Homo sapiens: one gene and its partner. The protein of the gene in region 2 interacts with the protein of the main gene of each other region in a pairwise test. Each region holds a gene or a part of one and is shown on either strand. Other genes may lie near its edges.

Region 1 (3,500 bases), on a different chromosome or scaffold from region 2:
AAACTAAAAAAGGGACTCCACCAGAAGAACGCAAATCCTCAAAAAGGACATTTTTCCCCATTCTAAGATGTTTTTCAAAAAACTGGGAAGCATCTTAAAAATAACAGCTCAGCTTATAAAATGCCAAATAGGTTTTGATATTTCTGATAAAACTTGCCTTGTGAACCTCTGGAATGGTATTTAAGTCCTCAGACAGTTTACTTGCAAAAGAACCATAAACACCATCATTCATATAATACATGAAGGCTGGTTCATCACTTCCGGTTTTTTCTACTGGAATAAAACAGGAAAGGGGAAAATGAATTTTTAATAAAATGGCTCATATGAAACAAATTAATGTAATTTTCACATTTCTCAAACTATTTAAACTTAAAAAGACACATAGAGCACGCATTTCACAAAGGAAGATAACCAATGAGCACAAGAAAAGAGTGCTCTAGGGCTGGATGCGGTGGCTCATACCTGTAATCCTAGCACTTTGTGAGGCTGAGGTGGGAGGATCACTTGAGGTCAGGAGTTCAAGATCAGCCTGAACAACATGGCAAAACTCCATCTCTACTAAAAATACAAAAATTAGCCAGGTGTGGTGGTGCATGCCTGTAATCACAGCTACTTGGGAGGCTGAGGCACTAGAATCCCTTGAATCCGGGAGGCGGAGGTTACAGTAAGACAGTGAGACAGTGAGCCAAGGCTGTGCTACTGCACTCCAGCCTGGGTGACAGAATGAGACCCTGTCTCAAAAAAAAAAAAAAAAAAAGAAAAAAGTATTAAGATTCTAGAAGACTTTCTGATAGTTGCTGTTTCAAAAAAAGAGGAAATGAAGCAGCAAGGAAAAACACTTTTTAGTTTCTTTTCAAATCAGCAAGGGGAAGGCAATATATGCACAAGGAGTTAAATATGTGTTTGAATGTAGAATTAAAAATAAAAGTTGAGATTGTGCCACTCATTCCAGCCTGGATAACAGAGCAAAAACCCTGTCTCAAAAACAAAAAAAAAAAAGAAAAGAAAAAGAAAAAGAAAACAGTGCTCTACATCGTTAGTCATCAGGTAAATGCAAATTAAAACCACAATGGACTACCATTACCACCAACCTACTGACTGGATCAACTTAAAGACTGACACTACAAAACATCAGAGAGCAGGAGGAGCAACCAGAGCTCACATGTATACACTGCCAGTGGGAATCTGTGTGTGTGTGTAGAGACAGGGCCTCACTGTTACTCAGGCTACAGTGCAGTAGCGTGATCACAGGTCACCGCAGCCTCGAGCTTCAGGGATCAATAGATCCTCTCACCTCACTTTGAAACCTTTGAAAACGCCCATTCTACTCACAGCTACTCTACTCTTAGCACAACCAATACTAATTTTCAGGTTTTTAAAATATCACTCTCCACGAAAACAAACCAAGGCTCCCTGGAGAAACAACTGATTACGGGACTGAGGCTCATTTAAAAGGTTAAAATGAGCCTGGAACATCTTGATATACCAAAAAATAACGAATTGCTCTGAGAATAATGGAGACATGTCAAGGGAAAAATAAGAGTAACAGATTATATAAACCTATTGAATAAAGATCTATGAGTCTAAACTCATAAACAGGAGGGAAGGAAAAGATATTCTTTAAGTAAAGGCCAACTAATATAAACAATAATGAAGTTAGAAATTCAACAATAGATGCTAAAACTAATGGGGTGAAAATCTGGTTAAAAACAGGTAGTTTACAGAGTCTCTAATTTAAACTTGCCACTTCACAATGGAAAGAAACCTGCCTGACACAACCTTAAACAAGTGCTCAAAACTAGCATTTAAATTAAAAAAAAAAAAAAAAATCTAGCCGGGTGTGGTGGCACGCACCTGTAATCCCAGCTACTTGGGAGGCTGAGGCAGGAGAATTGCTTGAACCTGGGAGGTGGAGGTTGCAGTGAGCTGAGATCATGCCACTGCATTCCAGCTTGGGCAACAAGAGCAAAACAGTCTCAAAAAAAAAAAAAAAAAAAAAATCATAAGGCCAGGTGTATTGACTCAAGTTTGTAATCCCAGCACTTTGGGAGGCTGAGGCAGGTGGATCACTTGAGCTCAGGAGTTTGAGACCAGCCTGAGAAACACGACGAAACCCTCTACAAAATAAAAATAGAAAAAAACCTAGCCAGGCATGGTGGCATATGCCTGTAGTCCCAGCTATGCAAGAGGTTGAAGGTAGGAGGACTGCTTAAGCCGGGAGGTGGAGACTGCAATGAGCCCTGATGGAGCCACTGTACTCCAGCCTGGGCGACAAAACAACAAGAAAAAACACCTAGCATCATCAATATTAGAATTGGCCACTATCATGTGCCTCCTAACATGATGAAGTGAGAAGAACAGAGTAACACTTTAGTGGACTTCATGCCCCAAATGCATAGCCTAAAAAATTAATCATGAGGAATCATCCAACAAACCCAAACTAAGGATCAGCTATGAAATTTCTACTCTTCAAAAATGTCAAAGTTAAAAAATACAAAGTAATGAGCTGAGAAACTTTATCTAGATTCAAGGAGAAATGACGAATTCAATGTGGTCCTGGACTGGATTCTAAGCAAGGAAAAACAAAGCTGTAAAAAAAAGACAATATTGGGGAAATGGACAACTTTCCTATGGGCTGTGGATTAGTCCACAGCCAAAAAAAAAAGTCTTCTTAATGTAAAACAGTATTTCCTACAATATTAGCCAACAAGATGGTACTGTCTAGTGCCTTTTTGTTGGTTTGACTTGAGTTAGATTACAGGGACTCTTTGTGGCCCTTATGTGAGAAAGTGTGAAAACAGAGCCTCCCTCTGACCCATGTGAGGTAAGGAGAACAGAAAAGATCACAATAAAAGTAGTTCTGAATAATGGATGAGAATTAATCATCTGCTAGACATTTATCTAAAACACACGTATCTAAACATCAGTACCAAGAAAGTTGGATTTGGAAGTCTTACGGAATGGGACCTTGGCTTTAAGATTTTTTTTTTTTTTGAGACGGAGTCTCACTCTTGTCACCCAGGCTGGAGTCCAGTGGCACAATCTTGGCTCACTGCAACCTCTGCCTCCCGGATTCAAGCGATTTTTGTGCCTCAGCCTCCCGAGTAGCCGGGATTACAGGTGTGCGCCACCATGACCAGCTAAGTTTTATATTTTTAGTAGAGATGGGGTTTCCACCATATTGGCCAGGCTGGTCTCGAACTCCTGACCTTGTGATCCACCTGGCTCTGCCTCCCAAAGTGCTGGGATTATAGGCGTGAGCCACCACGCCCGGCCAGTTTTAAGATTTTTAAAAGCTGAAAACCACCTACAACTTCATGACCATCTGCTCATTTCCAGACTAACTGCAATTATCTACCAACAAAAATAAAACTATAAACTTTATAACTTACCTCCAGAGGGAAATTTATCATTTTCAACAACTTTCTTTGCTATGATATTAACTGCGAGTGTAAATGCAGAAGACACATAGTAGCTTCCGGGTTCTGAAATTATCTTAA
Region 2 (3,500 bases):
GAGTGAGTGACTAGCAATGAATCAGAGAGAAGATTCTCAGGAAAGAGGCTGGGCTTTTATAGATAGAGAGGAAGGAAGGATGACTTAGCCATTTCCAAACCTACCTGAACAGATACATAAATAATGCCAAGAGGAATGACGATGATGGTGAAGACAGGAGTGGCCATGCAGATCATGACAAGGGTGCTGATTATCCCCAGGAAGCATGTAATCCAGCTGCGCAAGGACTGAGGCAGGGTGTCATCCACTGTGGAAATATCCTAGGAAAACGATTAGGAGAGATACACCATCACTGAGGTCTTCCTAAGATAGTTTACATCTTCCTAGTTCTAGCAAGGAATCTGTTGGATTCTGTGTGTTCCCAGTACTCCTTCATGTAATCATTTCATTGTGTTCATTTGCAATAGGCTGCATTGCTTGCCCCAATAACCAATTTCATTTCCATAATTTCTTCATTTAGGCCTGGCGTGGTGGTCACACCTGTAATCCCAGCACTTTGCAAGGCCGAGGCGGGTGGATCACCTGAGATCGGGAGTTCAAGACCAGCCTGACCAACATGGTGAAATCCCATCTCTACTAAAAATACTCAGGAAGTTGCTTCCTCTGCTAAGCATAGAGGACCAAGGGGAAGGGAGCTGGGGTTGAATGTGAGCCTGCCTGGACAGTGTTCTAACCAAGGAACCCAGCGGGAACAGATGTGTCTTACTGCCATGTTGCCTTCGTGTCATGTGAAATAAATGAACAAATAAGAAAAATGAATGAATGGATGGATGGTTTGGAGAACACTCAAGAAGCTTGGTTTATATTTTGGGTTGCCCTTGCCTAAATTTGTGGGGATTATATTGATTCTATGATTGGTAATATGTGAGTACCAAAGTGAGTTTAAGTTATCTCTGGAATTTCTCAAACTGTATCAGGGATAATGGTCTTCCAGGAAAGCTCTGAATCATGGATGACTCCTGAGTCTAACCTACCTTTCCCAAAGTCCTATCAGAATGCAAATAACTATACCCACAGTTGGCAGAGAAAAGAAATCCCTACCAGTTATCAGTTCTATGCAGATTACTTTTGATCCTTACCTGGCACAGAGTCTCCATCTTTCCTTCCTCCACTCCATCTCCTCTTAACTCAGCCATTGATCCCAGAGGCCCCTTGATCAAACTCCCCTTAATAGGTCTGAGCCACCTCCCCAACGAAACATACTATATAATTAATGACAGTTTCCTTTCTCATGCAAAAGCAGTCTTCAAACTATGACTGTTGCCTAAGTAACTCACAGAAAACCTCTGTGTTCTCTTTCCCAGAAGATTATATATATTACAACATGGGGAAAACTGTGATCTTTACAAAATTACTATGAGAAATTTCTCACCCAAAATTGAGTGTTCTTTTAGGTTCTAGTAAAGAGCAGAAAGGCCATTGAAGTTGTCTCTAGTGACATCATGCCCACTGTTTCTGCCCCAGAGGAAGATGACACAGGGGGACCAGTTAATGGCCCACTTTTGAAGCAGTTACTGTGTCCCCAGAACCTGGCTGTGGACTGTGAGCTATACTTTCTATGTCTGCCCCAAGACCAACAAACAAGAGTCCAGAGCTGCTCCATAAGCACAGGGCTAAAAACTGTGCTGGTGATAGTTACTTATCATTCAGAATTGCCTGATCTCTGCCTCTGTTCCTGAATTCCCATCTCAGATACACTAAAAAATCAGTGAGTTGGGTCTGGCCCATGGAAGAGAGACATCTATGATCTTCACATTCATTGAGTGCCCCAGTGTCTAGTACAGTAGTTGGCTCATAGAAAGTGCTCAATAACGGTTGTTGAATGAATGAATGAGTGAATGCCAAGGGGTCCAGGATCTGTGGTAGATGGAAACAATATTTGAGAACTTTTTAAAATCACTGATGGCTCTATTCCATAGTCCAGACCAAATTTACTCATTCTTAAAGCATTCAAGATAGAAGTTTCAGGAATGGAGGCAGAGGCCAAGCAAAGGGTTATCCTACTATCTCTTGTATTTCCTGTCCCAGGCTGTGACAGTGCTTTTATTTATGTTCCTTCCTCTGCAGAATAATCCTTCTCACCCTGCTCTACTGCCATCCCCCAACCCTTGCCATCTCCCTGGCTTGCTTCTATGACTTAAGTTTCACCTTTTCTGACATTTCCCACCTTTATCACGCAGGCTGGGCTAGTGCCTTTTTTTCCTTTGTACTCCCAGACCACCTTTCTACACACTGCTGTTACTGGTTTTACTATATTCTATTATAATCCTTCACTTCTTTGGTTGTCTTCTTCACTAGATGCTGAGCTACTTGAAGGGTCAGAGATGTTCATCCCTCAATCTCCAGGATTCTTGGGAGCTCACAGCAGGTACTCAAGAAACACTTGCATGTTGAGTGACAAAAGAACTGGAACTGAACAGTGTTGTCTAGGGGGACATAATAATTCCTCCCTATCAGAAAGATCCTCAGTATATAAACACACCACCTGACAGTTCTTGAGATACTTACGCCGGCAAACCTGTTCACAATCCGGCCTGTGGGTGTTGTGTCAAAAAATCTCATAGGTGCTCGAAGGATATTGTTCAGCAGTTGCTTGTGCAAGATATTTGATGCATGGACGAAACCAAAGGCACTCCAGAAATGTGCTATGAACACAAATATACCTAGAGATGGAAGCAGTTTTGTCAGCACCATGCACAGGAATCCCTGAAGACTTGTGCCCAGGACATAATGGCAAATGCATTCCTGAGTCCAGGAAAAGTACAGGGTCCAGACAGATTCTGTAAGATGTCATAGCCATCAGACATACCTTGGGCTAATCCCAGAGCTCCGTAGACTCCAACTCTCATGTCCCTCTGAGATGCTGGATAGTCGGTGCTATTGAAGATTTTAGAGTCACTGGTCCAAGCACTGAGCCAGAGGTTGGATCCAATAAAAGCCACAGAATTCATCACAAACGCAAGGATGATGAAGAATATCGAAAACAATCCTATTGCTTGTAGGTACTCCAGGTAGATGGAGAACTTCACCTGCAAAGTCCCCACCTCAATATTAGTAGAACTCCCTAATGGCTTTTGATAAGGAATCACCTAGAATGCCAACCACAAGGAGAAGTGGAGTCCCCTGGGAGCATGGGTAGCAGGTAGCAAAATTTGGTAGTCTGTGGTCACCATTTCTGCACTGTGCCAGGAAGGATAATAGAACAATGCTGAAATACAATGCAGGGTAAATAATCATCAAAGCTAAAGGCATTTAAGAGGAGAAGATATAAAAACAGATTGGGACAAGCCAGACATGATAGCATGCCCCTGTAGTCCCAGCTACTCAGAAGGCTGGTGTGGGAGGATCTCTTGAGCCCTGAGGTTTTAGTCCAGCCTGGGCAACATAGTGAGACCCTGTATCTAAAATAAACACACAAACAAAAAATCAGAGTGGAACAGATGATGGGGTTCTACTGCCGACCTTGAAATTTGTGGTTAAATTTCATTAATTTGAATTAT

Evidence for each region. The genes of interacting proteins can lie anywhere in the genome.
Region 1: the proteins of ABCC2 (region 2) and AZIN1 interact in a two-hybrid assay, tested with the Homo sapiens proteins (one large-scale study listed by BioGRID and IntAct).

What each region holds. Positions count from the first base shown.
Region 1 is NC_000008.11:102,829,664-102,833,163, forward strand, and holds part of AZIN1 (antizyme inhibitor 1), read right to left. Parts: coding exon 3,393-3,500; intron 274-3,392; coding exon 158-273; intron 1-157.
Region 2 is NC_000010.11:99,831,140-99,834,639, reverse strand, and holds part of ABCC2 (ATP-binding cassette sub-family C member 2), read right to left. Parts: intron 3,030-3,500; coding exon 2,810-3,029; intron 2,664-2,809; coding exon 2,509-2,663; intron 261-2,508; coding exon 105-260; intron 1-104. UniProt on the Homo sapiens protein: ATP-dependent transporter of the ATP-binding cassette (ABC) family that binds and hydrolyzes ATP to enable active transport of various substrates including many drugs, toxicants and endogenous compound across cell membranes.